Linked DNA regions of Homo sapiens. The protein of the gene in region 1 purifies or fractionates together with the protein of each later gene. This does not show direct contact. Each region holds a gene or a part of one and is shown in the gene's direction. Other genes may lie near its edges. The genes, in order: PKN3, IQGAP3, TMF1, GLUD1, SLC35E1, TRABD and NGDN.

Region 1 (4,414 bases):
CGCCCGAATCCTGCTGCCCGGCCCTGGGCCTGGCCCAGCTGGTGAGTGAGGAGCTGAGACCCCCTCAGGACAGAAGGCTCTAGGCCCATCTGGCCCCTGGCCTTGGCCCTGGCCACTGTGGCGAGACCACCTCATTTCCTGCCTATAGATCAGTAGGGGAAGGAGGAAAGGCCACAGTGGGGGTCTCGGCTCTGGGTGAGGGACTCCTGTGCTCGATACCCCCGTGCACAGAGCCTGTGGCCTCAGGACCCCGGCCGTGGGCAGAGCAGCTCAGGGCTCGGCACCTAGAGGCTCTCCGGAGGCAGCTGCATGTGGAGCTGAAGGTGAAGCAGGGGGCTGAGAACATGACCCACACGTGCGCCAGTGGCACCCCCAAGGTAAGGCCCCACAGTCTGATGGCAGGAGCACCCTGGCCCCTGGTCTGACAGGGAAATGCACCTCAGCCATTGGGCTCATAAGGAGACACCATTCCAGCCTGCAGCCTGATGGGGAAAATACAGCCCCAAACCCCAGCTGGGTGAGGAAGGCATGGCTGTAGTCTCTAGTGTGACAGAGAAGGCCTTGCCCTGGTCTAATGGGATCCTAGCCCAGCCCCAGTCCCAACTCCCAGCATGATGTCCAGAACTGGGCCTCAGTCCTTGTCTGACAAGAAGACTTGGCTGTGGCCCTGATATGATGACGGAGGCAGGACCTTAGCCTTGATCTAATGGGGGAGGCTTAGCTTAGCCCCTGCCCTGATCTGATGGGGGAGGCTTATCCCCAGCCCTGATCTGATGGGAGAGGCTTAGCTTAGCCCCTGCCCTCATCTAATGGGGGAGGCTTAGCTTAGCCCCTGCCCTGATCTGATGGGGGAAGCATCAACCCTGCTCTGATGGGGGAGGCATGACCACAGCCCTGATCTGATGGGGGAGAGTTAGCCCCAGCCCTGATCTGATGGGGGAGAGTTAGCCCCAGCCCTGATCTGATGGGAGAGGCATGACCCCAGCCGTGATATGAAAGAGGAAATTTGACCCCAGCCCTTGTTGGTCAGATGGAAAAGGCTCCCCTGACCCACCAACTAGTCCAACAAGGGAGGCTTGACTTTAGTGTTTGGCCTAGAGGTTTCACTTTAACCCTGTTTTGATGGGGGAGACCCGGCTCCAGTTCCTGGTCTGATGGGGGAAGCTGTGGCCCAGGCCTGGTCTGATGGGCCTGTGCTATGGCTCCATAGGAGAGGAAGCTCCTGGCAGCTGCCCAGCAGATGCTGCGGGACAGCCAGCTGAAGGTGGCCCTGCTGCGGATGAAGATCAGCAGCCTGGAGGCCAGTGGGTCCCCGGAGCCAGGTGAGGCCTTGAGACACAGGGAGGGCGGAGCAGGGAAGAGCAGGGCCTGAGAGCCGCCGTCCTTCCCACAGGGCCTGAGCTGCTGGCGGAGGAGCTACAGCATCGACTGCACGTTGAGGCAGCTGTGGCTGAGGGCGCCAAGAACGTGGTGAAACTGCTTAGTAGCCGGAGAACACAGGACCGCAAGGCACTGGCTGAGGTCAGGCCCCAGCCCTGGCCCTCTCCTAAGGCTGGCTTGTTCCCATACCACCCTCAGCAGGGGTGTGAAGGGAGGGTGGCCGTGTAAAAGCAGGACTTCTCTGTTGAGACTTCATGCGGAAGGTGGCTCCGGGTGACCTGGGCTGCTGCCCCCTGCCATATACCCCACGAACCTGGCTCTACGTTGTCCCCTCTGCAGGCCCAGGCCCAGCTACAGGAGTCCTCTCAGAAACTGGACCTCCTGCGCCTGGCCTTGGAGCAGCTGCTGGAGCAACTGCCTCCTGCCCACCCTTTGCGCAGCAGAGTGACCCGAGAGTTGCGGGCTGCGGTGCCTGGATACCCCCAGCCTTCAGGGACACCTGTGAAGCCCACCGCCCTAACAGGTAGTCAGAAGTTCCTCCCCCTTCAAAGCTCTCCTTCTTTTTGGGGGGAGGCCGGAAGCACAAACAACTCTGATGAAGAGTTCAAGAGTTCCAGTCCTGCCCCAGCACCCACTAGCAGCGTGACCTTGGCAAACTGACATTCCTTCTTCAAACCTCAGTTTATCCATCTGTAAAATGTGGATGATATAGCACCTACCTCATAGGGTTGCTGTGTTGCACGTGATGTGCTAAGCACAGTGCCTAGCACAGTCAGCACTCGGACAGCGTAGCTTGTATTTACATAAATAACCAGAATAATGCTTAAAGCACTGGTGTTAGGAAGCTCGCAGCCCTGGAAAGCTTGATACCCAGCACTGGGCAGCTTGGACTGTTAGAAAGTTTTCTAGGCTGGGCGTGGTGGCTCACGCTGGTAATTCCAGCACTTTGGGAGGCTGAGGTGGGTGGATCATGAGGTCAGGAGTTCCAAGACCAGCCTGGCCAAGATGGTGAAACCCTGTCTCTACTACAAATACAAAAATTAGCCGGGCGTGGTGGCGGGTGCCTGTAATCCTGGTTGCTCAGGAAGCTGAGGCAGAGAATTGATTGAACCCCGGAGGCGGAGGTTGCAGTGAGCCGAGATCACGCCACTGCACTCCACCCTGGGCGACGGGGCAAGACGCCGTCGCAAAAAAAAAAAAAAAAAAGGTTTTCTTGGGCCAGGCATGGTGGCTCATGCCTGTAATCCCAGCACTTTGGAAGACTGAGGTGGGCGGATCACCTGAGGTCAGGAGTTCAAGACCAGCCTGGCCAACATGGTGAAATCCTGTCTCTACTAAAAATACAAAAAAGTAGCTGGATGTGGTGGCACATGCCTGTAGTCCCAGCCACTCGGGAGGCTAAGGCAGGAGAATTGCTTGAACCCAGGAGGTGAGGTTGCAGTGAGCTGAGATTGCGCCGCTGCACTTCAGCCTAGGTAACAGGGCAAGACTCCATCTCAAAAAATAATAATAATAATTTCCTTGGAAAAAAAATAATAAAATTAAACTAAAATTGCTGGGTGCAGTGGCTCACACCTATAATCCTGGCACTTTGAGAGGCTGAGGTGGGAAGATTGCTTGAGCTCAGGAGTTTTTTTGAGACCCAGTCTCAAAAAAAAAAGAAAAAAAGAAAGTTTTCTTGGCTGGGCACAGTGGCTCAAGCCTGTAATTCCAGCACTTTGGGAGGCTGAGGTGGACGAATCATTTGAGCCCAGGATTTCTAGACGAGCCTGGGCAACATAGTGAAACCTCATCTTTAGAAACAAAAAAAATTAGCCGGGCGTGGTGGCGCATGCCTGTAATCCCATCTACTGGGGAGGCTGAGGCAAGAGAATTGCTTGAACCTGGGAGGCAGAGGTTGCAGTAAGCCAAGATTGCACTGTTGCACTCCAGCGTGGGTGACACAGCAAAACTCTTTCAAGAAAAAAAAAAAAAGAAAGAGTTTTCTGGTCTGGCTCAGTGGCTCATGTTTATAATCCTAGCAGTTTAGGAGGGTGAGGCATGTGGATCACTTGAGTCCAGGAGTTTGAAACCAGCCTGGGCAACATGACAAAGCTCCATCTCTACAAAAAATACAAAAATCGCCGGGCGCGGTGGCTCACGCCTGTAATCCCAGCACTTTGGGAGGCCGAGGCGGGCGGATCACGAGGTCAGGAGATCGAGACCATCCTGGCTAACACGGTGAAACCCTGTCTCCACTAAAAATACAAAAAATTAACCGGGCGTGGTGGCGGGCGCCTGTAGTCCCAGCTACTCGGGAGGCTGAGGCAGGAGAATGGCGGGAACCCCGGGGGGCGGAGCCTACAGTGAGCCGAGATCGCACCACTGCACTCCAGCCTGGGCCACAGCGAGACTCTGTCTCAAAAAAAAATAAAAAAATAAAAAAATTAGCCAGGTATGATGGTACGTACCTGTAGTCCCAGCTACTTGGGAGGCTGAGGTGGGAGGATTGCTTGAGCCCAGGGAGGTTGAGGGTACAATGAGCCATGATCGCGCCACTGCACTCCAGCCTGGGCAACAGAGAGCCCGTCTCAAAAAAAAAAAATTAGGCTGGGCACGGCAGCTCATGCCTGTAATCTCAGCACTTTGGGAGGCCGAGGTGGGTGGATCACCTGAGGTCGGGAGTTCGAGAGCAGCCTGACAAAAATGGAGAAACCCCGTCTCTACTAAAAAATACAAAATTAGCCGGGCCTGGTGGTGCATGCCTATAATCCCAGCTACTCAGGAGGCTAAAGCAGGAGAATTGCTTGAACCCGGGAGGTGGAGGTTGCAGTGAGCCAAGATGGCACCATTGGAATCCAGCCTGGGCAACAAGAGCAAAACTCTGTCTCAAAAAAAAAAAAAATTTGCAAAAATTAGCTGGGTGTGGTGGCGGGCGCCTGTAGTCCCAGCTACTCGGGAGGCTGAGGTGGGAGAATGGCATGAACCTGGGAGGCGGAGCTTGCAGTGAGCTGAGATTGTGCCACTGCACTCCAGCCTGGGTGACAGAGTGAGA
Region 2 (3,500 bases), on another chromosome or scaffold:
TTTTGGCTATCTGCAATAGCCCACATCGGTCTGCCTTCGGTAATACTGGGCCTGAAGATTGGTATTCATCTTTACTCCTTACCAGCCACCTCCCACAATCCCATGCTTTATCTCCCTGGACCCTTTAGCCCTATTTCCATGTGTCTTCTAAACTAACTTAATCTAAGAGAACAGTTCCTTGCAGCTGTGTGTCTTTGAACCAGGTTATTTTTTTCTCTGCCTCCTCTTCCCTGTGGATGAAAGGAGGTGAAGTTTCCCTGGCCTGAGTGGCACGGTTCCCATTATGCAGGGGGTGGGAGGCTGCTATGTCATGCTCGTATTGGCCAGCCTTGTCTCCACCAAATTTCACAGTGTGAAGCAAGGGTATACACATCCCTAGGTGGCAGACTTTGAGTTAGAAGCCTAGGTCCAAAACCCCAACTGGACACATGATTTCACTCTTTGAACCTCAATTTGTTACTCATCTGTAAAATGGGGATAGTGAGCCCTGCCCTGTCTACCTTACAGTGTTGTCAGGAAGATCACATGGTCTGTGTGAACTCCCTTTGTGAACTGTGAAGAGCTATACAAATGAAGGCATGATAGGATTCTACAATGTATGGTTTCTTTCTGCTTTGTTTTTCTTCCCTGTAGAAAGGCACTATAAGACAGGAAACAGCAGTAAAGACACTTCGATGGGAGGCAGAAGCAATAGAGGTCATGTGTCTTCAGTGGGACTGGAACACTCTAGGTCTCTAAATTTGGTCTTTTATTGTGAATCTAAATATAACCAAGATATATTGAGGTTAGGCCTCATTACAGTTGTCAGGTGGCATTGAGAAGCCATACCTGGTGCCACTCGGTTCTTAGAAGGGCTCTCATTGATCAGAAGCCGCTGGCTTGGAGACAGGGATAACAGCCTGACACTTTTGTGGTCCTTGGCAATATATGCTTCATTGGGCCCTGCATGGGAGTAGGCCAGCTCTCCAGCATACCACATCTCTGGCAAGGGTCTAAGGTGAGGCATGCAGGCTCACTATAGACATCTGGAAGACAACTGGGGGCCTGGTTTTTTGTTGTTGTTGCTGTTATTGTTTTTGGAGGATATGGCTTATATCCTGTAGCCTTGATGGCCTTATCTGGTGTTTGGTTAATCCAGGGCACCCTAGGACTATGTGTCTGTGGCTGAGCCTTGGCTTAGTATGCATCCTCAGTGAATTTCTTTTATACTAGGCTGACTAGAAATGGTTGGGGGAGACTGACCTAGACACCCCAGGTAACAAGGGAACACACACCTCAGGTTGGAGAGGAAGACCCATTCCTCGGCACCCCCTCTCCGCATTTGGTGGTGCTTAAAGGTTCCCAATGGCAGTAACTGGCTGGTTTCTCCTCTAGACCTTCTTCCCAGAGACCACGGACATCTATGACAAAAAGAACATGCCCCGGGTAGTCTACTGCATCCATGCTCTCAGGTGAGAGACCTCAAATTTTATCATCCAGGTTCCTCTAGGTGGATGCGACCAACAATCAACAACAACAAACTCAGCAAGAAAGAAGGATGAAGGGTAGACCACAGGGAGCACTGCTCAGGAGAGTGAGGTTTCAGATTTACAGAGTTGTGTTTAGATTTTTGTGCATGTCTGTGGGCACATTTATGTATGGCCTGTGTGGGTGAAGGGGAAGGGCAGGCAGGGTACCAGAGATAGGAAAGTAGCAGGGTAGGGCCTTCAGTTTGTAACTGGGTATAAAGGAATCAGAACAGGACCTATTGAGAGCAACACAGGCAAGACACTTAGTATGGATGGTGTAGGCTCTTTGGTCCTACTTACAGCCAGCCATCAGCAACCAGTTGGCTAAATCACAGCAAGTGACCGACCGGTTCCTTGTGTTTACCATGCCATCTCTTTCTGACCACTTCCCATGTCCCTTTGTGCCCCTGTGCCTTAGCTCAGCAGGTATCTGCTTGCTGCGCCCTTCCTGTCCTCTCTCTCCATTGAGTGACCTGCTACTGCAATGTGGCCTTCTCTGTGAAGCCTTCCTAATCCCCTCAGACCCCCAACACCATCTTATTTACCTTCTGCAGCACTTTCCTTGGGCTGATTTATGGTCATATTTCTTTATGTGGGTTGGGGATGACTTGAGGGCAGGTGCTGAGTGGTCTTCATCTCTAGGTCCCCATAGTATCCCCTTCAAACCCATCGTGGGCAGAGTGTCAAAATGAATAGGCCCCAGTGCCTTCCAATGCCTTCCGTTTTTTCCTAGTCTCTTCCTCTTCCGGCTGGGATTGGCCCCTCAGATACATGATCTATACGGGAAAGTGAAATTCACAGGTAAGCCCAGCTCCTTCCCTGACCACCACAGCCTGGGCAGGGTCTTGGGGGTTCTGGGCCTGATGAAGGGCACCTGTGGCATCATTGCAGCTGAGGAACTCAGCAACATGGCGTCCGAACTGGCCAAATATGGCCTCCAGCTGCCTGCCTTCAGCAAGATCGGGGGCATCTTGGCCAATGAGCTCTCGGTGGATGAGGCTGCAGGTAAGGACTAGGCTCTGCCCTGCCAGGAGTAGGCTCAATGCGTATGGGAGGGCTCCAAGCCTCACAGCCATTGGATGGGTTCTGGCCAGCTCTCATCCACAGATAGGGCCATCAGGCTACCTGGTTTGTCTGGCCCTTGAGGGTGGGAAAAAGGATGACATTAGAGTGGGCTGCTACTGGTTGCGCTCCAATCTGGGATTCACTCTGGCCTCCTGACCTTGTTTCCATGCCCTCTCCCAGTCCATGCAGCTGTTCTTGCCATCAATGAAGCAGTGGAGCGAGGGGTGGTGGAGGACACCCTGGCTGCCTTGCAGAATCCCAGTGCTCTTCTGGAGAATCTCCGAGAGCCTCTGGCAGCCGTCTACCAAGAGATGCTGGCCCAGGCCAAGATGGAGAAGGCAGCCAATGCCAGGAACCATGTAAGGAGTAGTCTTGGGTTGCAGGGACCGAAAAGTTGAGTGGCTGGAAAGTCTCAAGTGAAACCGGGACTCCTATCTGTCATGTCTCTAGTATCCAAAATTGCTTCTTAGAGAAACCATAATTTATCAGTGATTTTAGAGAAATAGGAAAGGAACTTGGAAGAATGATGAGAATTCCGAAGAGAAGACTGGAGAAGAGGTTCTTGGGGGATGATCTTCAGGGAAGCCTGAGAGGGGTGCTGGAATGTAGAACAGAATGAGATTGGACTGGAGGTTCCAAAGGTTGGTTTGGCTTAATTATGTCAGTGCCAAGTGTTTTAGACCCCACAATTCCTGAATTCTGAGCAGACTGAACTTTGGCCTTGGGAAGGTCCCCAGAAGAAGAAATAAGTGTAGCCAGGCAGGGAAGAGCAGGACAAGGAGATTAAATTGGGTTTCCCAGGTTCCCTTTCAATGGAGTTTTTGCAGGATGACAGAGAAAGCCAGGACATCTATGACCACTACCTAACTCAGGCTGAAATCCAGGGCAATATCAACCATGTCAACGGTAAGAGACCTCGAGCAGGAG
Region 3 (4,414 bases), on another chromosome or scaffold:
AAATGATTTCTAAAGTAAAATATCTGAACTTTTAGAAACATTTTCATAGAACTCCCTAATAAGCTTTGTGGAATCTGAGCATATTATAGGATGATGGTACTCAAAATTATTTTTATAAAGTCTCTTTTTAAATGAAATCTTAACCCAGAGCACCAATAAATAAAATGCACAGAAGTGGAGCTTTTTCACTTTTGGTTTGGTTTCTGAGTGAAACTCAGATGGGATCTGGAACACACTGTTGGAAAATCACTGATGTCAAGCTGGTAATAAAAATGATTTCTCAATATGTAGCTGGAGTTAATAAAGTACTGAGTTTTTAATAGTCTATACTAGCATCTTTTTCATTTTCTGTTTTTTTAAATTCTGCCTTGTTTAATAGGTACCAGGTTGAATTGGAAAACCTAAAAGATGAATATGTAAGAACACTTGAAGAGACGAGGAAAGAAAAGGTATTTCTCTTCGTGACCACTCAGCTCTTAGGGCATACATTAGAGAATGGTTGGGGATGGCAGCAAATTAATGAGATAACAAGATGAAATGGGTGATGCCACTGCTTTTGGAACTTGGTCTTTAGTAGGAAAACAAATATGAGTTTATACTTTATGCTTCTAACTTTGAGATTGACTTATCATGGCATGAATTACTATCACAGAAATTGTCTAACTTTATTTCTCTCTATTAGACATTGTTGAATAGTCAGTTAGAAATGGAAAGAATGAAAGTTGAACAAGAAAGGAAGAAAGCCATTTTTACTCAAGAAACAATAAAAGAAAAGGTATTGAATTTTGTTTTTGTTTGTTTGTGGTGTAACCATTTAGTAGATGCTGTGATTAATCATTGCTTTTTAATTTTAGCTATGCTTTATAACAAGCTTGTCCAACCTGTGGCCCTGGTTGGCATGTGGCCCAGGATGATTTTGAATGAAGCCCAACACAAATTTGCAAACTTTCTTAAATCATCATGAGATTTTTTTCATGATTTTTTTTTTTTTTTTTAGTTCATCAGCTATTGTTAGTATATTTTATGTGTGGCCCAAGACAATTCTTGTTCTTCAAATGAGGCCCAGGGAACCAAAAGATTGGACATCCCTGCTTTATAAGTATCATTTTTTTAATGTCTAAAATCAACATAGTGATGAATTCTAGTATTATAATCAGTGTCCTGCTCAGAGTGGACCCAAAGTAATTTTGAGTTTATCCAAAGAGATCTATGATTTCTAGGACTTGAAATATAAAACCTCTTGCCCTTTTTAAAAATGAATTTAATTGTCTGTCACTGAAACCAGTGCACATCATTTGGTCTATAGGCACTTAAGGAGTAAGTCTGGCTTGTTTTCTTTCTGGTTAATGAGGGTAATTTTTCTGAAATGAGTTTTCTGAGGCTGAGCATGGGGACTCACATCTGTAATCCCAGCACTTTGAGAGGCTGAGGTAGGTGGATCACTTGAGGCTAAGAGTTCAAGACCAGCCTGGCCAACATGGCAAAACCCCATCTCTACTAAAAATACAAAAATTAGCCGGGCATGGTGGCATGTGCCTGTAATCCCAGCTACTCGGGAGGCAGAGGTGGGAGAATTGCTTGAACCCGGGAGGCGGAGGCTGCAGTGAGCCGAGATCGCATCACTGCATTCCAGCCTGGGCAACAGATCGAGACTCTTTCTCAAAAAAATAAAAATAAATAAATAAATAAAAATGAGTTTTCTGTATTGAAAGAATTACCGTGTACTTGGAGTTAGCATAATATATTTAAACTACCGATAGGTAAATTTAAATTACCTATTGAATTTATTTGGAATTTTAAGAATACATTAAAAATAAAATGGATAAGCCAGAAATTTTATGATTTGTAACACTCATTAGTAATTTTATGTTACAGAAATAGGTTTAATTGATAGTATATTGTATAATATGAAGCTTAACAGAAACATTCTTATTCTATTATAAAAACCCAACAAATTACATTGTTGTAATAAATGGGTTCTGTGATGATCTAACCAAGTCTAGCTACAGTTTTAATTAGTAAATATTGTACTTTTTTTTTGTTTGTTTGTTTTGGAGACTGAGTTTTACTCTTATTGCCCAGGCTGGAGTGTAGTGGTGCTATCTCAGCTCACCGCCACCTCCACCGCTATCTCGGCTCACCGCAACCTCACCTCCCAGGTTCAAGCGATTCTGCCTCAGCCTCCCGAGTAGCTGGGATTACAGGCATGCGCCACCACGCCCAGCTAATTTTGTATTTTTAGTAGAGACGAGGTTTTTCCATGTTAGTCAAGTTGGTCTTGATCTCCCAACCTCAGGTGATCCACCCTCCTTGGCCTCCCAAAGTGCTGGGATTACAGGCATAAGCCACCATGCCTGGCCAAATATTGTATTTTTGACTTAAGAAGCCATTTTATGGGGAAATTAGAATGAATCTTAAAAAAGTTTTTTTTCTTCTTTTGATTGTATTGAATTCCTTTGTAGTGTGGCTTTTTTAAAAGACTGAATCTTTGTTCTCATTAACCCTAGGAAATGTTCTTGCTTTCTCTGCTTATCTCTTTGCTCTTTAATATGAACAGAATTTTTTTTACTCCCTAAGGAACGCAAGCCATTTTCTGTTTCTAGCACTCCCACCATGTCACGCTCAAGTTCAATAAGTGGTGTTGATATGGCAGGACTACAGACATCTTTTCTGTCTCAGGTGATGTTTTATTTTTTATATGTGCTTAGTTCTTAGAATAATAATAAAGGAAATATGCAAATGGCAATATTGTCTGTCATCATGACCTTGCCATTCTATGGGTAATTCATCTGAATACTTGTGGAGGAGTGCTAATTTTAGTGAGAGGAAACACGTGAATGATTTTCTGCCTTTGAGAAGACATTTAAAGCAAAAATTGACAGAACCATTTTTGTTCGAACCTGGTAATGGAAGACAAGCTATGATAACTGAGTAACTGTGTGAACTTTCTTAATTAACATAGGATGAGTCTCATGATCACTCATTTGGACCAATGCCTATATCAGCAAATGGAAGCAATCTTTATGATGCTGTAAGGATGGGAGCAGGATCAAGCATAATTGAAAACCTACAGTCTCAGCTAAAGCTAAGGGAAGGGGAAATCACTCATTTACAGGTATTGGAAAAATTAAATTTGCTATAGAAGTAAATGAAGTTTTGAGGCCTAATAAATAGCACCCTTCATTTCCATCTGAATTCTGAGCAAATTGAGAAACAAGATGACATAGTGGCATGTGAAGCCCAAAATGTATCACATATATCAATGATAAAGGCTAAAAAGAGAAATTAGCTAAGGATAACAGCCAACTGAACCTGCTAATTGCCAGAATTAGGCATATTCGGCTGATCTGTCACAGGAAATGCTGGGCTGGAGCAGGCCTCCCATGTTTTACAACCTGCCTACATAAGACATAAGCATCTAGGAGCAGAGAATCCCTCCTCCTTTCAAGCAGCTCTTTCCCAACAGAATAAAGGGAAGTCACTGAGCTGTGAATGCCTGTTCTATTCAGATTTACCTCTTAGATAAGTTGTTCCAGCTACCCCGGGAAGGAGGGGTAAAGGGGATGAGATGTTTGAACTGTAACACCCTGTACATGGGAGGAAACAACATGAGTTGTTGATGGAGCATCCTTCCATCTTACCTTTTTGGCTTTTAAAAAACTTTATGCAGTCAGAAATATTGAAATGTTTTACAGGTTTGAGCATCCCAGCTCTGAAATCTGAAATGCCCCCAAATCCAAAACTTTGAGTGCTGACATGCTGCTCAAAGGAAAAGCTCAATTGAGCATTTTGGATTTCCAGATTTGGGATGCTCAACCAGTAAGTACATAATGCAATTATTCCATAATCTGAAAAAAAAAAAAAAAAAAAAAGAAATTTGAAACATTCCTGGTCTCAAGCATTTTGAATCAGGATACCTCTTTTCAGTGTTAAACACAATACACTCAGAAGTAGGTAAAAATTCAACTCCCATTATATACTTTTAGTTATATGAAAATATTAAAGAACTTGAATTGGCAAAAAGTAGATCAGACTAATCTGAATCCCAGATGTTTGTATAGCTGGTATGCTATACAGGGACCTAATTAATTTCTTTGGTAGTGATGAAAGCCTCTGTCGATACAACCTACACAGGTGGGGCTACGTTAAAGTATATTTTTATTTCTCTGGGTTCTTGTAGTAATTTAGAATAACTGAAATATATGTCATTTCCTTAGATTAGAAAAATATATGGTTGAATGTTTTCAAACAAATAATTGGATTTATCTCTGTTGCACAGTAAACCTTATAAACGGTATACCTCTCAGGAAAGTTGGGACCGTTTTTCTGCCACTGTTTCCTTTACTTAAGAAAGAGCTAGCTCAAGGTTATATGTTGACATGTCTATTTCAAAAAAAAAAAAAAAACCACACAC
Region 4 (4,414 bases), on another chromosome or scaffold:
CAACTCATTTCTCTACCAGTGTGTAGTCCATTTATCTTTAAAGATTTTCTATTGAATAATTTTGAAATTACTTTCTTAGTTTTCTTCATTAAAAACTAAGAAAATGCTTTGTTTATTATGAATTGCTATTTCTCTTGATTATTATTCTTGGAGAAAGTCTATCAGACGTAATTCTTCTGATTTGCTTCTAGGCTAGAGGAAAATGTGAAAGATGACAAATGAAAATTTCAAAGGTTGTCAGTAGTATGACTTCTTTTATCGTTTGTCATTATCACAAATATATCAACATAGGACTTTTAAAAGATATTTTGTACATATTGGGCCTTAGTAGGATTTTGCATGAATTTTTTTTTTCTTTTATGCCAAGAGAGAAAGAGCAAAGAAATAACCAAGGGTGATGTACTCGTATTGAAGGTTTACCAAATAAGGACTGCTTTTATTATGAACTATAGTCTATATTCTAAGTAAATCAATTTTTCTATTATGTGTTTTTTGTTCCTGCAGGCAAGATCTCTGAACTTTATGCAGAGGGTTCTTTTAAAAAAACAAAGTTGAATTTTTTTATTTCTTGGAATATTTTTTTTCATTGATTTCTCCCAAGTAGAGCAGATTCAAATCTCCTTTGTACCCTATGTCTTTTTTGTTTTGCTATAAGCTCAGTATTCCATTTCTACATTTTCCTTTCCTAGAACCAGTCAATAAATGACAAAAAAAAAAACAAAACAAAGTAAATCATGTGTTGTTGCAGTAGGAGTTCAAGGAAACCAAGGACAATCTTGTTTGTTTATTTGTTTTTTTGTTTGTTTTTTTTTTGAAACAGAGTTTTGCTCTTGTTGCCCAGGCTGGCATACAGTGGCGCGATCTTGGCTCACTACAACCTCTGCTTACCAGGTTCAAGCAATTTTCCTGCCTCAGCCTACCAAGTAGCTGGGATTACAGGCATGCACCACCTCACCTAGCTGATTTTTGTATATTTAGTAGAGACAGGGTTTTGCCATGTTGGTCAGGCTGGTCTCGAACTCCCGACCTCATGTGATCAGCCCACCTCGGCCTCCTAAAGTGCTGGGATTACAGGCGTGAGCCACCGTGCCTGGCAGACAGACAGTCTTGATGTGGGAACAGAGAAGGCTGGATAGGAGTTGGATAAGGCCATTTCAGATAAAGAGGGGGTGGCTTCACCCAAGGCAGGAAGTGGAACTGTGTGTAAGGGGGTCATGAGGACAAACTACATTTGTAAATAATGAGAAATAAGGGCTTGTGACAGTAAATATATTTGGTCTCTTTGCCTGGTTCCCAACACAGAGCTCCTGAATGTCGCAAATTCCTGAGTGATAGGAGCATCTTTTGTTCTAACTAGGACACTCTTAATGGGCTTCTGGGTAGCTTCAAGGTGGGGACTAGTCACCAAAAAGACCAAGCCATAATTAGAAATTTGGAACTTTCAGTCCCACCCTTTGACCTCTGGAGATTGGAAAGGGGCTGAAGATTGAGTTTAATCAGCAATCAGTCATGCCCTCATAATGGAACCTCTATACAAACCCTAACTGATGGCTGGAGTATGGGGAGAGTTCAGAGAGCTTCCAGGTTGGTGAATGCATCCATGTATGGGTAGGGTGGTACCCTCCAAATTCCAGGGGAACAGAAGCTCCTGCAGTGGGGACATTCCAGACATGGCCCTGTGTACCTCTTCATGTTGCTGTTGATTTGTATCCTTTACATAAGTAACGTTTCCCTGAGTCCTGTGAGCCTTTATAACATTATTGAACCTGAGGAGGGGGCCATGGGAACCCCCTGGTTGGTAGCCAAGTTGGACAGAAGTGTGGGTGCCCTGGGCACCCAAGACTTGGAACTGGCATCTGAAGTAGGGAACAGTCTTGTGCGACTGAGCCCTTGAGCTGTGGGGTCTGTGCTAACCCTGGTAGTCAGTGTCATAACTGAATTGCAGGACACCCAGTTTGTATCTGCAGAGAACTGGAGAACTGCTTAGTGTGGAAAACCCACACATTTGGTGTCAGAAATGTGTGAGAAAAAACAATTTTTTCCTTTTTTTTTTTTTTTTTTTCTTTGAGACGGAGTCTCGCTGTCTCCCAGGCTGGAGTGCAGTGGCGCGATCTTGGCTTACTGCAAGCTCCGCCTCCTGGGTTGATGCCATTCTCCTGCCTCAGCCTCCTGAGTAGCTGGGACTACAGGCGCCCACCGCCACGCTGGCTAATTTTTTTTTTTTTTTGTATTTTTAGTGGAGACGGGGTTTCACCATGTTAGCCAGGATGGTCTTGATCTCCTGACCTCATGATCCGCCCGCCTCGGCCTCCCAAAGTGCTGGGATTACAGGCGTGAGCCACCGCGCCAGGCCAATTTTTTCCTTTTATGTTTGTTGGATGAATAATGATGAATCTAGCAGGGCACAGAAAGCTAGGCAGCAGTGGAACTGAGAATGAAGTTATAGTTAATAGCAGAGAATGAAAAAGAAAAGACAGATAAAACATTTTGAAGAAAGGACAGTAATGTATTCCCAACAGGTAGGATTTACAGGATGAAGGAGAGAAGAGGCAAAGATAACCACAAAATTTCTAGCCTGAGAGACTGGTAGAAAAAAATGGTGGTATCAGGGACAGATGGGGTTATTAAGGAAAAGGATTGGATTTTTAAAATAAAGAAGATCTGGTGTAAAATTATCCTTAGGGAAATTGGAAATCCAGGCACGTACTTCTCTCCATCATGCCCTTGAATAGTGCAGTCCCTCTGCCTGTCCATGCCTCACTTCCCCCTCCCTAGGATTCCTCTGCCTCTCTTAAGACCCATCTCAAATTATCACGTAGACTTGTAAATAATTTATATGAAACTGGATAGCTGAGGTTTCAAGCCTTTATCCCTTTGAAACTTTTTAATAACAAGTTATTGTTACCTTTTACTAAATCCAACTTTATATTCACCATTTTAACTAGCATCATTTCCGATTCCAAGACCTGTTTGGTGTGAAAGTGCAGCTAAGTTACTGTTAATCAAGATCAGAATAAAAGAATCTACCAAGAAAAATTAACAAAATCCCCCTTTTAATGTATAATCTTCCATCTGTCAGGCTGTAAGTTAAATAACACAAAACAAAGCTGTATGTTTTATGGATATGTACATATATAATTGCAGGGAACATGATTTGGAAGGATATACACTTACATTGCTAAGAATAGTCACCCCTAAGGAGAAGACTGGGGTCATAAGTGGAAGTCAAGGGAGTCTTCAGCTTTCTTTTTGTATTTAAATTTTGATAGAAATACATACATATGTGTTATAATTTTAAATTTTTAATGAAAAAAGTATTCTTCCGTTTTTTCTTTGATGTGTCAATAGGTTATATTTTTCTAATATCAGCTAAACATTTGCTTCCCAGAAAGCTTAGTTACCTCTTCAAAATTTATTCAGGTTAAAATAAAAGATTTAGACTGGATTAAAAATCTAAGATGGTATTTGCCTACTTTATACAAAACAGTACATTGATGCTGCTAAAGCAATTAAAGTATAATTTTTCTGGTTTTTTTTTTTTTTTTTGGAGACGGAGTCTCACTCTCTGTCGCCCAGGCTGAAGTGCAATGGTGCAATCTCCACTCATTGCAACCTCGGTCTCCCAGGTTTAAGCGATTCTCCTGCCTCAGCCTCCCCAGTAGCTGGGATTACAGGTGTGCACCACCACGCCCAGCTAATTTTGTTGTGTGTTTAGTAGAGACAGGGTTTCATCATGTTGGCCAGGCTGGTCTCGAACTCCTACCTCAAATGATCTGCCCACCTCAGCCTCCCAAAGTGCTGGGATTACACGCGTGAGCCACCACGCCCAGCCTAAAGTGTGTACTTTTTCTTAGCTCCTATATGCAGTGCTCCTTCCCATGCTGAATGTCTGAATTTTTATCTGAGACGTAGTATTTCAGGTGGTCATTACTTGTGGGTGGTCATTGAGAGTTCCTCCCTGCTTCTAACCTTCCTCTCTTCATTTTAAATTAAGTTACGCTACATTATTGTGGGTTAGAAGGTACATTAATATTAAGTGAAAAAATATAATCTGATGAGTAAGTGGCAAGAGTGTTAACTTATAAATATTAAGAGTTGTTCTGAGGCATTTTTGCTTTTCTGGTGGTTCTGTGCTTCTGGTAGAACTCTTGGTTACTGAATAAATAGTTCCTGAAAAGTGAGAGAGTGCAGCTGGAAATTAGATTTCTGATGAATAAATCAAACCCTATTAAGAGAACCAGGTTCAAGTAATTTTAAAACCACTTGAATTTTCATAAATGTTTTGTTAATGACTAATTATAAAAAACAGTGACTAGCTGGAGGCTTTTGTGTTTGCTTTTGAGTCAGCTAGGAAAAGGAAAAAAAATTCAAGCTTAGTCAATTGTGGTTTTCACTGAATCTTTTTTAAAGTAAT
Region 5 (3,953 bases), on another chromosome or scaffold:
AGATTGTTGTAAAGCACTTCAAAAGCCATGATTCTGTTCATCCTCGCAGCAATAGGTGCAGACCCGTGGCTTTCGTATTACCAGGTACTTCGCAGGCTCAGAGCCACCTTCCCAGGACCTCCAACCCTGTAGAATGCATTGCGTCCAACAAGCAGATCCCTGCTTTGCCAAACCCAGGGTTCCTGGCTGTTCACTGCCAGGGAAGGCTTTGGCTTACGTCTTGCTTGGTGCCCTTTGGGGACCTGGCTTCACCTGTTTCCTTGGCAGGAGACGGCGGGTGATTCCCATGCTGTGTGGTGTCATGAGGTTCTGAGGTCATGGACCTAAAGCACCTAGTGTCTCTTGGTGACACATCTGGACTGGCTGCCTGTGGACCATGAGGCTCCAGATGAGCCCCTCCACATCCCTTCCCCTAACCCTGCCAGGTGGATACAGGGAGGCAGGGTCACCGCTGCCCACTGAAGTGCTGTCTTTACCTTCCGGTCTCTGCAGACCTACGTCTACCAGTGGCCCTGGACGCTCCTGCTCCTGGCTGTCAGCGGCTTCTGTAACTTTGCCCAGAATGTTATCGCCTTCAGCATCCTCAACCTCGTTAGCCCCCTGAGCTACTCGGTCGCCAATGCCACCAAAAGAATCATGGTCATCACGGTGTCCCTGATCATGCTGCGCAACCCAGTCACCAGCACCAACGTCCTGGGCATGATGACCGCCATCCTGGGGGTCTTCCTCTATAACAAGGTGAGAGTCTGAGAGGCTGGGCAGGGAAGGAAGCCGGCCCCCCAACACCCAGGAAGTCAGAAAAGGAAGGGCCTCCCGGGCGCTCAAGGCTGGGGTTGTATGTCAGAGCTTTGCCACTGACTGGTTTATGATCTTGGCGTAGCCCCATCCCACTCTGGCTTCCTTTTTCCTGCATAGGCAACCTCAGGTCCTCAAATCATTCCGGCTGTGTCTCAGCTGGGGTTTTCCCTCCCTCCTCTCAAAGGCTCTGTTTAGTGCGGTGTAAGGACATGGGATGGCCAACAGGGAGGGCTTGCCTTCTTTTCCTTTTCTTTTTTTTTTTTTTTTTTTTCGAGATGGAGTCTGGCTCTGTCACCCAGGCTGGATTGCAGTGGCGCTCCATCCCAGCTTACTGCAACCTCCGCCTCCCGGGGTCAAGCGATTCTCCTGCCTCAGCCTCCCGAGTAGCTGGGACTACAGGCGCCTACCACACCTGGCTAATTTTTGTATTTTTAGTAGAGATGGGGTTTCACCATCTTGGCCAGGCCAGCCTCCAACTCCTGACCTCAGTTGATCCACCTGCCTTGGCCTCCCAAAGTGTAGGGATTACAGGCATGAGCCACCACACCTGGCCTCTTCATTTGTTTCTTAACACATGTAGATATGGGGTCTCTCTATTTTGTCCAGTCTGGTCTCCAACTCCTAGCCTCAAGTGATCCTCCCGCCTAGGCCTCCCAAAGCACTTGAACTACAGGCATAAGCCACTGCGCCTGGCCAAGGACTTGTCTTCTGAGTCTGTCCATGCACTGTGGTCTGGTCCATTCAAGTCTGCTTTCCTTGCTCAAGCCCTATGACTTATGCCGGCCCCGGAGGTTAACTGACTTTTTTTTTTTTTTTTTTTTTTTCTGAGACAGCGTCTTGCTCTGTCTCCCAGGCTGGAGTGCAGTGGTATGGTCCCAGCTCACTGCAACCTCCGCCTCCTGGGTTCAAGTGATTCTTGTGCCTCAGAACGCCTGAGTAGCTGGAACTACAGCATGCGCCACCACACCCGGTTAATTTTTTGTATTTTTAGTAGAGACGGGGTTTTGCCATGTTGCCCAGGCTGGTCTCAAACTCCTGAGCTCAGGTGATCCTCCCGCCTCGACCTCCCAAAGTGCTGGGATTACAGGTGTGAGCCACCGCAGCCAGCCAGTTGATTGACTTTGAATTACGAGCTCTTATGCCCCGGGCATGTCCTGTCTCATTGCTCTCTTTCTGGCACAGACCAAGTACGATGCAAACCAGCAAGCCAGGAAGCACCTCCTCCCCGTCACCACAGCAGACCTGAGCAGCAAGGAGCGTCACCGGAGCCCACTGGAGAAGCCCCACAACGGCCTCCTCTTCCCCCAGCACGGGGACTATCAGTACGGCCGCAACAACATCTTAACAGACCACTTCCAATACAGCCGGCAGAGCTACCCAAACTCGTACAGTTTGAACCGCTATGATGTGTAGAGTCCAAAGGACAGGACCAGACTGTTGGTGACTCCTTCCCCGGCCCCCACAGCAGTATCAGAAACTTCTGACAATCAGTGAATGTACAACCCAGCCGAGGGGACGGTGCATAACTCTCCATCAGAAGCCCTGGGGTTCCTGGCCCCCCGTGAGCCGCAGGAGGATGCGTTGCCTGCAGTGCAGACGGCCGTGAGCTCTGGGCAAACCTAAACAGAGACCAGTGTCTCATGCTCTTTCTTCCTGGAGTCTGTCATCTGAGGGCCGTGTCCCTGCGGAGATCTTGGCCACGTTGTACCTTTCCATGTGGAATTATTCCCCAAGCAGTGTAGCTCAGAGCACTTGTGTCTGCATTCCAGATAACATTCAGGACCTGTGTGAAAAGCTGGGGTCACTGTGGCTGTAGACCATGAACTGGCAGTGGGGGTGTCCAGGGCGGTGCTTGAGAACGTCAGACTGGCTAGTTTAATTCCCTGGCGCAGATACGCATAGGACCAACAGGGTCACCAAGCAGACAGGGAGCCCGCGAGAATCATTCAAAACATCCCCAGCCACAGAGATGGATCCAGTTTCCTGGTCATCCCCTTAGCAGTTCACAAGTTCCTGGCAAATGTTCCAAAGCAAAAAGCGATTGCAATTAGCATCCAGTTCCTGCAGCCTGGTGCTCTGCCCTGCACGTCAGGGTTGGCATCCACCCAGATCCAGATGGAAGGGAAACTTCTCTCTTCTCCTTTGCCTCCTCTTCCCTCACCAGAGCAGGGCGCTTCTCTTGGGGTGGTGAGAAGGATCTTCGAGAAATCGTGTTCAGTATTTCAAGCTCTATTTCTGTGGCACATGTCTTTTGAGAGGCATCTTCACCTCTTCTGTGATGACTTGGTATGTTGTTTGGTAGAGAGATCTTGATTTTCGGAGGATCTTGCATTTTTCTAGGGAATATTTTGTAGTTGTGTGTGTGTGTTTTTGCCTTGGTCCCCATTATGGGATGCATTAGGACTGGCCTATGCATCGAAAATCTTTTTGTTTGTAAACGTTTAAAAACAAAGTTCCCCGGCCAGGCACAGTGGCTCACACCTGTAATCCCAGCACTTTGGGAGGCCAAGATGGGCGGATCACGAGGTCAGGAGTTCGAGACCAGCCTGGCCAACATAGTGAAACCCCATCTCTACTAAAAATACAGAAATTAGCCGGGCATGGTGTCGCGTGCCTGTAGTCCCAGCTCCTCAGGCTGCTGAGGCAGGCGAATTGCTTGAACCTGGGAGGCAGAAGTTGTGGTGAGCCGAGATTGTGCACTCCAGCCTGGGTAACAGAGCGAGACTCCATCTCAAAAAAAAAAACAAAACAAAACCAAGTTCCCACTGGTGATGCCTGTCTGACACGTTTTGGTATTTAGTAGGAAATGAAGTGTTTCGAAGCTTCGAGAGAAGCTTCAAAATTGTCACAATTGCTGAAAACAGAATGAATCGTGAACATTATCTCAATATTTTGTATAATAGACAAGACCACAGTGTTTTGGTTCCCTGACCTGTTTTTGTGTTTATGTTAGGATCTGAATCATGTTCTGGGTAAGGGGACGAGGAGCGAACACTGCACTAAGATTTGGTTTGCCAAATCAGATTCTTTGGTCAAGAGTCAGTTTGGGGCCAGGCGTGGTGGCTCATGCCTGTAATCTCAGCACTTTGGGAGGCTGAGGTGGGTGGATCACTGGAGTTTGAGACCACCCTGGCCAACATGGTGAAACCCCATCT
Region 6 (5,097 bases), on another chromosome or scaffold:
CAGGAGCTCAGCCTGGAGAAGCTGCAGCAGGCCGTGAGGCAGGTGCGCAGCCGCGGGCAAGGGTCAGGGTCAGGGTCGGGGTCAAAGCCACCTGTTTGCCTGTTGCCCAGGTTCCTCTCACAGCCCATGCCCCCAGTCAGTGTGGCTGTGCCTGGCCTGCCCTGGGGATTGCCGGGTTAGGGACCTCCCCTGGGCCAGGAGAAATGAAAGAGGCTCCATTACCCGGTTTCAGGCAAGGGAGGAGGAAATGGGTGGCTCTCCAAGCTGAGGCAGGGGCTGGTCACCCGAGGACTGGGTTGCTGAGCAGTTGCTGGGGATGGGTCAGGTCTCAGTGCAAGGTTGGCCCCCCCGGTACCACACCCAGGCCCAAAGTGGGTGGGGCTCAGGGCTCCTCCTGTCCCCACTTCTCCAGCCTTGCAGTGACCGGAGAGGCAGGACTTTCTCATTGCTCTTTGTGTTTTCGGTTTTTGTTTTTTTTTTTTGAGACAGAGTCTCGCTCTGTTGCCCAGGCTGGAGTGCAGTGGTGCGATCTTGGCTCACTGCAACCTTCGCCTCCTGGGTTCTAGTGATGCTCCCGCCTCAGCCTCCTGAGTAGCTGGGATTACAGGTGCCTGCCACCACACCTGGCTAATTTTTTGTATTTTTAGTAGAGACGGGGTTTCACCATGTTGCCCAGGTTCATCTCAAACTCCTGAGCTCAGGCAATCCACCCACCTCAGCCTCCCAAAGTGCTGGGAATACAGGCATGAGCCACCGCGCCCGGCCAGGCTTTGTGTTTTCAAAGGGGGCCCAGCACGCCTGACCCCAGCCCTGGTCAGTTTGCCTTCCCCCTGTTCAAAGGAAACAATTATAATGAGATCTTATAGAAATGTCCCTAAACGTTTGGCGCCTGCCTTTCATTTTTTAATTTCTCCAGATGAGGCAAGTCACCAAAGAAGACCTCTGTGGGCCGTCTTCTAAAGGGCAGTCCCCGGTCCAGCCAGGGCCCAGCACTGGGCAGCCTCCCCACCAGAGCCTGGGGCCCAGTGATCTCGAAGGGGCATAGAATTCGGCAGTGCCGTGCTGCTCACTGCTGCGGTGTCACAGAGGGAAGGGGGCGTGGGGCAGGGTCTGGGAGACACCAGGTGTCCGCTTCACCTGTCCCCTCCCGGGGGACACTCGCTGTGCCCTGGTGTCTAGGTTTCTACTGGGGTTGGTCACAGGCACGTCTGAGCTCAGACCCCAGCCCCTCCAGAGGTGGAGTGGGTCCCAGTGGACCAAGGCCTCGTGAATGTCTCATCCTAAGTTAGCCTGGGCTCCCCAGGGTGGCCTGGGCCCCGGGGAAACACGGGCACTCCATCAGGCGGGACATTCCCAGGGCTCATGGCTCAGGCCCAGACCGTCCCTGGGCGCGTGCAGGTGTGAGCGATTGCCCGGCGCTGTGTGGCCCCCGGGGCTTTGCTGCCCTTCTGTGGGCATCATCTCCTTCACACGTGGACACCCCCGTGGTGCCAGCCGGCCGGTGAGACAGGGGCAATAGGCCTCGGGCTGTAGCTGCTGAAGATGGGGGTGGCCTGGTGTCCGCACCAGCAGTGCTGTGCTGACCTCAGCAGGCAGGTGTGAGTGGTGAGGCCCTTTCTCCAGCCTGCCTGCCCAGCACCCAGCGTCTGTGCCAGCTCAAGGCGGCCCCTTCGCAGAACGAGACTGCCTCATAAAGGCCTTTTCTTCTTCTTTTTTTTTTTTTGAGACAGAGCAGTCTCACTCTGTCACCCAGGCTGGTGATCTCGGCTCACTGCAACCTCTGCCTCCGGGGTTCAAGTGATTCTCCTGCCTCAGCCTCCCGAGTAGCTGGGATTACAGGCACCCGCCAGCACACCCGGCTAATTTTTATATTTTTAGTAGAGATGGGGTTTCGCCATGTTGGCCAGGCTGGTCTGAGAGAGAACTCCTGACCTCGTGATCCGCCTGCCTCAGCCTCCCAAAGTGCTGGGATGACAGGCGTGCGCCACTGCACCCGGCCCGTGAAGGTCTTTTCTGAAGGGAGCTACCTTTGAGAAGTGCCTGTTGGGACAGAACTCCCTGCTCTGGTCTGACCCTCTGCACGCTAGGGTGGTCCTGCACCTGTCGGGGAGGGGGCCAAGGACACAGCACTGGGCTGGGGCAGGGCTCTGCGCTGGTGCTGCCTGCCATCCCAGTTCTGCCATTCCCCCAGCGCACCCCCGCACCCGCCCCTCCAGCTGATGCCTGCTCCCTCTCTCTGCAGAACGGGCTCATGTCGGGGCTGATGCAGATGCTGCTGCTGAAGGTGTCTGCACACATCACCGAGCAGCTGGGCATGGCCCCAGGTGGCGAGTTCAGGGAGGCCTTCAAGGAGGTGGGCACAGGGTGAGGTAGGGGGTGGCCACAGGGATGTGGCTCACAGGGGTGGTCCGGGGTTCCCACTGCTCCCCAACACCCAGCCTCTGCTCCAGGCCAGCAAGGTGCCTTTCTGCAAGTTCCACCTGGGTGACCGACCCATCCCCGTCACCTTCAAGAGGGCCATCGCAGCGCTCTCCTTCTGGCAGAAGGTCAGGCTGGCTTGGGGCCTGTGCTTCCTGTCAGACCCCATCAGGTAGGGCTGCCCCCGGGACCCTGGCCGGCCTGCAGGGTGGTCTGTGGGAGGCTCCAGGCCCTCCTGTGCAGGTCCAAGCGCAGCCAATCCTCACTCAAGGCCTTCCCTGCCCTTTCCTTCCGCCACAAATCCCAAACAAACGTGCTGTGGTCCCTGCCCGGTGTCCACAGTGCCAGCCCCACCCCCCCAGCCCGTTGCCCATCCCTGCGGGGCTGCAGCCATCCCTCTCCACAGCAAGGATGACGTGGAACGCTGCAAGCAGAAGGACCTACTGGAGCAGATGATGGCCGAGATGATTGGCGAGTTCCCAGACCTGCACCGCACCATCGTCTCGGAGCGCGACGTCTACCTAACCTACATGCTGCGCCAGGCCGCGCGGCGCCTCGAGCTGCCTCGGGCCTCTGACGGTGACGGCCGCCCGCAGGCGTGGGACCCCCTGTGAGGCTGAGGCCCGAGCAGGTACTGACCCCTTGTCCTTCCCCACAGCCGAGCCCAGGAAGTGCGTCCCCTCCGTGGTCGTGGGCGTCGTGGGCATGGGCCACGTGCCTGGCATCGAGAAGAACTGGAGCACCGACCTCAACATCCAGGAGATCATGACGTGAGTGCCCGCCCCTCCCTGCAAGCCCCACCCCACAAGCCCCCAGGTGGAGGCTGAGCGCCCTGGAGGCCAACCACATGCGGCAGTGACCCAGGCATGGGGGCTGGGGTATGGGGAGCCCACCCCCAGCCAGGCCCAGCGCCCCCTCCCTCCCACAGCGTGCCCCCGCCGTCCGTCTCCGGCAGAGTGTCTCGGTTGGCCGTGAAGGCCGCCTTCTTCGGCCTGCTGGGCTACAGCCTGTACTGGATGGGCCGCCGCACCGCGAGCCTGGTCCTGTCGCTGCCCGCCGCGCAGTACTGCCTGCAGAGGGTGACCGAGGCCCGGCACAAGTAGGAGACTGCTCCCCGCCCGCTCGGGCCCCTGAGGAGCCAGTGCCCCCGCGGCACTTCTGGGTGCCAGGTGCATCCTAGCCCGCCCGAGGCCCCTGCCACCCCCCATGGGGGTCTGGGCCCGGCCTCGCCTGCCCTCCTGGGCCAGTCACCCCTCCCCCAGCCCACCCAAATAAAGGATTATTTAACTGTCTGAGCTCAGGCCTCCCGGCAGCCCCTCCCCTCCCACACTGCAGGGGCCGTTCCCCAGCTTCTGGACAAGACACCCAGCTCCGAGGGGGCAGGGGCTTATAGGAGGGGCCGAGGCGTGCGCTGCCCTCTCAGCCCTGGTGGCAGGCGGGGGACAATGGCCACTGTCCCTACCTCACTGTGCCTTCCTGTGCTCCGGCCACAGGAGCGTCGGCCCAGGGGCGGCTCCTGGGGGCTCCAGGGCAGGCGAGACTGGGAAAGGCCCAGCCCTGGAGCTCCAGCCGACCCCACCGTGCCCCTGGCATCCTGGCCCTGGCCGCCACCTCCCTGGCACCGTCTGCCTGCAGGGATTCTGTGTTTTTGGCTTTTTTAATGTCTTAAAATCTTTTACTCAGGTAATTTTAATTTCAGAGAGAAAAACTGAAGTAAATGTCAAAAAACACCAGCCTTAAATCCAAAGGGAGAGAATTCGTGTTCTTGGGTCTGTCCCGAGTGGGCTCGCGTGCAGCCAAACATCAGCTCTGGGTCCAGGCGTGGCCTCAGCTGGGAGCCTGTGTCCTGAGCCCCCGGAGCGAAGGGGTGCCTGGGGCATCTTGGCCCTCTCTGGGCAGACAATGTGTGCACCTATGTGGAAGGCCAAGGACATGGGCTGTGGCCAGGCCTGTCCCGCTCAGGCCCCCTGCCCGGCGGCCGTCTGTGTGCGGGGCCTCCCTCCTGGCTGTCCAGGACACAGCCCGTGCAGCCCCAGCCTGGACCCAGGCCATCTCTGGTTGTGTCTGTGCCGACTCGGTGTTGAATCAAATCAGGTGTGCGTCAGGAGCCGGCTGTGTCCTTCCTGCCACACTCGGGGATTCATTCCTTAGAAACTGAAATAAATTCTAATTTTGGAAACTCCTGTTTTGTGACGTGTGAACATGGGGTTCAGGTAATGAAGGATCCCTGCCTCTTCCCCCGTGCTCCAGTGCAGCGGGTACTCGTGGCCCTGCCGGGGCCCTGGGGGAAGGAACCTGCCTGGTTTCCAGCAGAAGAGACAGAGTCGGGTCCCTCCATGCTGACCTGTGGGACCCTTCTCACCCACCAGGTGGGACGCAGGTGGCCTGCTGACACTCAAGACCCTCCATACCCAGTCCCACCAGATTCCAGAGTGTGGACCAGACTGAGCCAGACTGGGGCCCCAGGGGGTCGAGGAGACAGATCAGGAGGGCCCAGGGCCTGGGGAATGGGGAGGGGTAACACCTGCCAAGGAGGATGCTGGGAACGGGCGCCCAGAGCGGCCGGGGGGAGGGGGCTGCTGAAGAGGGAACGGTTGCTGTGGGCTGCAGAGGAGGGTTGGGCACGGGGACCTCACCACATTATCCCTCATCCAGTTACCTGCCCAACGCACGCGGAGG
Region 7 (3,899 bases), on another chromosome or scaffold:
TTTACTAAAAATACAAAAATTAGCCGGGCATGGTGGCGTGTGCCTGTCTGTAATCCCGGTTACTCGGGAGGCTGAGGCAGGAGAATTGTTTGAACTCAGGAGGCAGAGGTTGCAGTGAGCCGTGATCATGCCACTGTGCTGCAGCCTGGGCAGCAGAGCAAGACTCCATCTGAAAAAAACAAAACAACAACAATTAAAATATTGTAGTTTTCAAATGAAGGTCTGGTAGAACCTTCTCAGGGATTACTGGTTGGGGGCAATGTGGAAGAACAACTCTGGATCTCTCATCCCTACTTAACTGGAAAACTCTGGTATTATCTGTTTTTATATATTGAGCTTTTGTCCTAAGATATTTAGGCCAAATATTCTATGGGTAAATACAAGTATGAAAATCATTGTAATAAGAGTCACTGAAGGAGTTTTAAGCACAGGAGTTACAGCAGATTTGTGCTTACAGAAAGATAACTAAAAACAGCATTCAAAATATATTCCCTTCTTGTCTTTATCATTCACTTATGTTCTTATTGTCCATTTTTATTTAAAAAAAATTTAAATCTTTGTTTTTCTCTCATATGCTTGTAGCTCAGTTTGAATTTGACAATGCCCAAGCACGTCGGAAGAGCCTGCTTCTCAAATTCTTACCTGTTTTTGTCCTGGGTACCATGCTTTTTTGTTTTGTTTTGTTTCGTTGAGATGGAGTCTCCCTCTGTCGCCCCGGCTGGAGTGCAGTGGCACGATCCTGGCTCACTGCGGCCTCTGCCTCCTGGGTTCAAGTGATTCTCCTGCCTCAGCCTTCCGAGTAGCTGGGATTACAGGCGCCCGCCACCACTCCTGGCTAATTTTGTATTTTTAGTAAAGACGAGGTTTTACCATGTTAGCCAGGCTGGTCTCGAACTCCTGACCTCAGGTGATCCACCCACCTCGGCATCCCAAAGTGCTGGGATTACAGGTGTGAGCCACCACACCAGGCCTTGGGTACCATGCCTTGAACCATTTCAGTGCCTTTTGGAGATGGATGAGTTGCCAGCATCCTTCTTAGATCCCTATATATTTGTTTATTTATTGAACAAATACATATTAACTTATCTTTTTGACCAAAGACTTTTACTAGGTGCTTTATAGGTTACAAAGTTCTTTCACATTATCTTATTTGGGCCTCATAATTATTCTTTGTGGCAGGGAGGAAATGTACATATTTTACTGATAAGACTGAGGTTGGCCTGGTGCAGTGGGTCACGGCTGTAATCCCAGTGCTTTGGGAGGCTGAGGCAGGTGGATCACGAGGTCAGGAGTTCGAGACCAGCCTGGCCAACATGGCGAAACCCCGTCTCTTAAATCTTAAACAAAGATTTAAATTTTTTTTAAATAAAAATGGACAGTAAGAACATAAGTGAATGATAAAGACAAGAAGGGAATATATTTTGAATGCTGTTTTTAGTTATCTTTCTGTAAGCACAAATCTGCTATAACTCCTGTGCTTAAAACTCCTTCAGTGACTCTTATTAACAATGATTTTCATACTTGTATTTACCCATAGAATATTTGGCTTAAATACAAAAAATTAGCCGGGCGTGGTGGGAGGCACCTGTAGTCCCAGCTACTTGGGATGCTGAGGCAGAAGAATCACTTGAACCCAGGAGGTGGAGGTTGCAGTGAGCCGAGACAGTGCCACTGCACTCCAGCCTGGGCGACAGAGTGAGACTCCATCTCAAAAAAAAAAAAAAAAAAAAGACTGAGGTCACAAGGTTAAGTGACTTACTCAATATTTGACTACCAAACACCTAATTCAGAACTTAAACTCAGTTTGTGGACTCTAAATCCTTTGCTCTCCTTCTATACCACAGTAGTGTTGATCTCAAGAGCTTAGCATGTTGGCTTAAAGACATCCAGGGATGAGGTGTTGGAGTCAGATTGAGTTTGAATCTTAGCTCTACTTGTATTACTGTGTTATCTTGGCCAAGTATTTAACCTCTCTGAAATAGGTTTTCTCAGGGCTGTGAAGTTTGGAAGATACATAAAAGCCCAAAGAAAAAAATGAAAAATCAGTATAATCACCACTCTGAGATAACCACTGTGGTAATATTTTTGAGATTTTTAAAATTATAAGAATAATATATGCAACACTTTTTCACACTCTAAAGTACACCATTTCTTCCTTTTCCTCATCTCACCCTAGGGGTAGCAGTTACTTGTGTGTTGTCTTGTAGACATTTTTCTATGTGTATAAAATGTATTCATCATATCCCCCCCTACACACACACACTTTCACAATTGAAGTCATATTACACTTTCTACAACTTGTGGTGACATGGATTTAATTCGATGTCATTATATATAAATCATTGTTTTTACCTGTATCATATAATTCCATTGTATGGGGGGAAATTGGTAATTACTTTGATTAAATTAATTTAAAACTTGGCAGTCTGTGGAGACATTTTTGATTGTTAGAGCTTGGAGGGGCCATCCGTGGGAAGAGGCCAAGGATGCTGCTGGAAACCTACAATGCCCAGGACAGCCCTCAACAAAAAATGTTCTGGCTTCAAATGTCAATAGCTCTGAGATTGAGAAACCCTGTTATAGTCTTTTTTGGGGGGGTAGTTTATTGATTTTCCTCTTCTCATTGTCTTCTATTAATTTTCTGAGCGTTGTTTCTCTTGTATTAGCATAACTTTCTCATTGGCCTTCTTAGGCATAGCTACTTCTTGAGACTATTCCAGATACCTAATATGAACTGATTGGGAAAATCTTGAACTTGGAAAAACATCCCGTTTACCCTAGGCTTTCATCTGGTTCTTTGGCTAAAACCAAATCTGTTTTTCTTTCTGTTTTGTTCAACTCAGGGTCTCAGCTTCTTGGAAGTGAAAGACCAGCTGCTGCTCATGTACCTTATGGATTTGACCCACCTCATTCTGGACAAAGCCTCAGGAGGATCTCTTCAGGGACATGATGCAGTTTTGAGACTGGTGGAGATTCGCACGGTATGAAGCATTTGGCTTCTTGGAGTTTTAGGTTTCTAAATTTTGAGCTCCAAGGGTATCACACAGTAGCTCTCATTTAAGTGAGTCTTCTCATGTTTAAGGAAACCAAATGAGAAAAGGTATTTTTCTATTCATTTGCTCTACTTTGTACATATTTTAGGTGCCTTATGTGGCACCTTAATATAGGGACTCTGGTGTGTGCTTCATTTTGGGAAGGAAATATAATCCTGATTAACTACCATGTTGTAGGTTTTGGAAAAGCTTCGTCCCTTGGACCAAAAGCTGAAGTATCAAATTGACAAGCTGATCAAGACTGCAGTGACAGGCAGCCTTAGTAAGTGAGGAGACCATCATGAAGTTGTGGGGACCATCAGAAAGTTCCAAATTTTGTAAAATTCATTGGGTTATTTATTTCAGGTGAGAATGACCCACTTCGTTTTAAGCCTCATCCCAGCAATATGATGAGCAAGGTAAGGGGTTGTAGTATTCTCCTGATTTTTTTCTGAGGCAGCTATACCTAGATGAGCCTCTTGGTGATCCTGGATACCCTGGGATTCTCTTAGGACTTGATTTTCCAACTTGTGTGTTAGAATGCTGAGTTTGAGATTCCCTTTTTTCCCTTTTTATATTCCCACCACCCCAGGGTACTCCAGCTTTGGGTTTTCTTCTCACTTATCTCATGAATGCTTCCTAAATTTGCAGACATTGTTTCTTTTGTAGTTGAGCTCTGAGGATGAGGAGGAAGATGAAGCAGAAGATGACCAGTCTGAGGCTTCAGGGAAGAAATCTGTGAAGGGAGTGTCTAAGAAATATGTTCCTCCACGCTTGGTTCCAGTACATTATGGTATAAACTTTGGCTGCTGCCTCCTCAGCATGAACTGTTTCTCTTTTCTCTGTTCTTGGATAACCCTGCTTATT

The links.
Region 2: the proteins of PKN3 (region 1) and IQGAP3 purify together in Homo sapiens (affinity purification with mass spectrometry; one large-scale study listed by BioGRID and IntAct). This does not show direct contact.
Region 3: the proteins of PKN3 (region 1) and TMF1 purify together in Homo sapiens (affinity purification with mass spectrometry; one large-scale study listed by BioGRID and IntAct). This does not show direct contact.
Region 4: the proteins of PKN3 (region 1) and GLUD1 purify together in Homo sapiens (affinity purification with mass spectrometry; one large-scale study listed by BioGRID and IntAct). This does not show direct contact.
Region 5: the proteins of PKN3 (region 1) and SLC35E1 purify together in Homo sapiens (affinity purification with mass spectrometry; one large-scale study listed by BioGRID and IntAct). This does not show direct contact.
Region 6: the proteins of PKN3 (region 1) and TRABD purify together in Homo sapiens (affinity purification with mass spectrometry; one large-scale study listed by BioGRID and IntAct). This does not show direct contact.
Region 7: the proteins of PKN3 (region 1) and NGDN purify together in Homo sapiens (affinity purification with mass spectrometry; one large-scale study listed by BioGRID and IntAct). This does not show direct contact.

Annotation. Positions count from the first base shown.
Region 1 is NC_000009.12:128,705,503-128,709,916, forward strand, and holds part of PKN3 (serine/threonine-protein kinase N3), read left to right. Parts: coding exon 1-41; intron 42-231; coding exon 232-377; intron 378-1,210; coding exon 1,211-1,322; intron 1,323-1,393; coding exon 1,394-1,521; intron 1,522-1,719; coding exon 1,720-1,903; intron 1,904-4,414.
Region 2 is NC_000001.11:156,562,566-156,566,065, reverse strand, and holds part of IQGAP3 (ras GTPase-activating-like protein IQGAP3), read left to right. Parts: coding exon 1-39; intron 40-633; exon of another isoform or gene 634-730; intron 731-1,374; coding exon 1,375-1,451; intron 1,452-2,241; coding exon 2,242-2,309; intron 2,310-2,399; coding exon 2,400-2,513; intron 2,514-2,753; coding exon 2,754-2,932; intron 2,933-3,400; coding exon 3,401-3,479; intron 3,480-3,500.
Region 3 is NC_000003.12:69,024,261-69,028,674, reverse strand, and holds part of TMF1 (TATA element modulatory factor), read left to right. Parts: intron 1-379; coding exon 380-449; intron 450-682; coding exon 683-775; intron 776-2,577; coding exon 2,578-2,679; intron 2,680-2,962; coding exon 2,963-3,115; intron 3,116-4,414. UniProt on the Homo sapiens protein: Potential coactivator of the androgen receptor. Mediates STAT3 degradation. May play critical roles in two RAB6-dependent retrograde transport processes: one from endosomes to the Golgi and the other from the Golgi to the ER.
Region 4 is NC_000010.11:87,084,481-87,088,894, reverse strand, and holds part of GLUD1 (glutamate dehydrogenase 1, mitochondrial isoform a precursor), read left to right. Parts: intron 1-4,414. UniProt on the Homo sapiens protein: Mitochondrial glutamate dehydrogenase that catalyzes the conversion of L-glutamate into alpha-ketoglutarate. Plays a key role in glutamine anaplerosis by producing alpha-ketoglutarate, an important intermediate in the tricarboxylic acid cycle.
Region 5 is NC_000019.10:16,551,937-16,555,889, reverse strand, and holds part of SLC35E1 (solute carrier family 35 member E1), read left to right. Parts: intron 1-492; coding exon 493-738; intron 739-1,980; coding exon 1,981-2,211; 3' UTR 2,212-3,953. UniProt on the Homo sapiens protein: Putative transporter.
Region 6 is NC_000022.11:50,194,999-50,200,095, forward strand, and holds the end of TRABD (traB domain-containing protein), read left to right. Parts: coding exon 1-42; intron 43-2,242; coding exon 2,243-2,353; intron 2,354-2,438; coding exon of another isoform or gene 2,439-2,450; coding exon 2,451-2,590; intron 2,591-2,824; coding exon 2,825-2,997; intron 2,998-3,076; coding exon 3,077-3,188; intron 3,189-3,346; coding exon 3,347-3,521; 3' UTR 3,522-4,117; coding exon of another isoform or gene 4,118-4,130; 3' UTR 4,131-4,597; downstream 4,598-5,097.
Region 7 is NC_000014.9:23,472,328-23,476,226, forward strand, and holds part of NGDN (neuroguidin), read left to right. Parts: intron 1-2,843; coding exon 2,844-2,981; intron 2,982-3,230; coding exon 3,231-3,315; intron 3,316-3,398; coding exon 3,399-3,451; intron 3,452-3,701; coding exon 3,702-3,825; intron 3,826-3,899. UniProt on the Homo sapiens protein: Part of the small subunit (SSU) processome, first precursor of the small eukaryotic ribosomal subunit.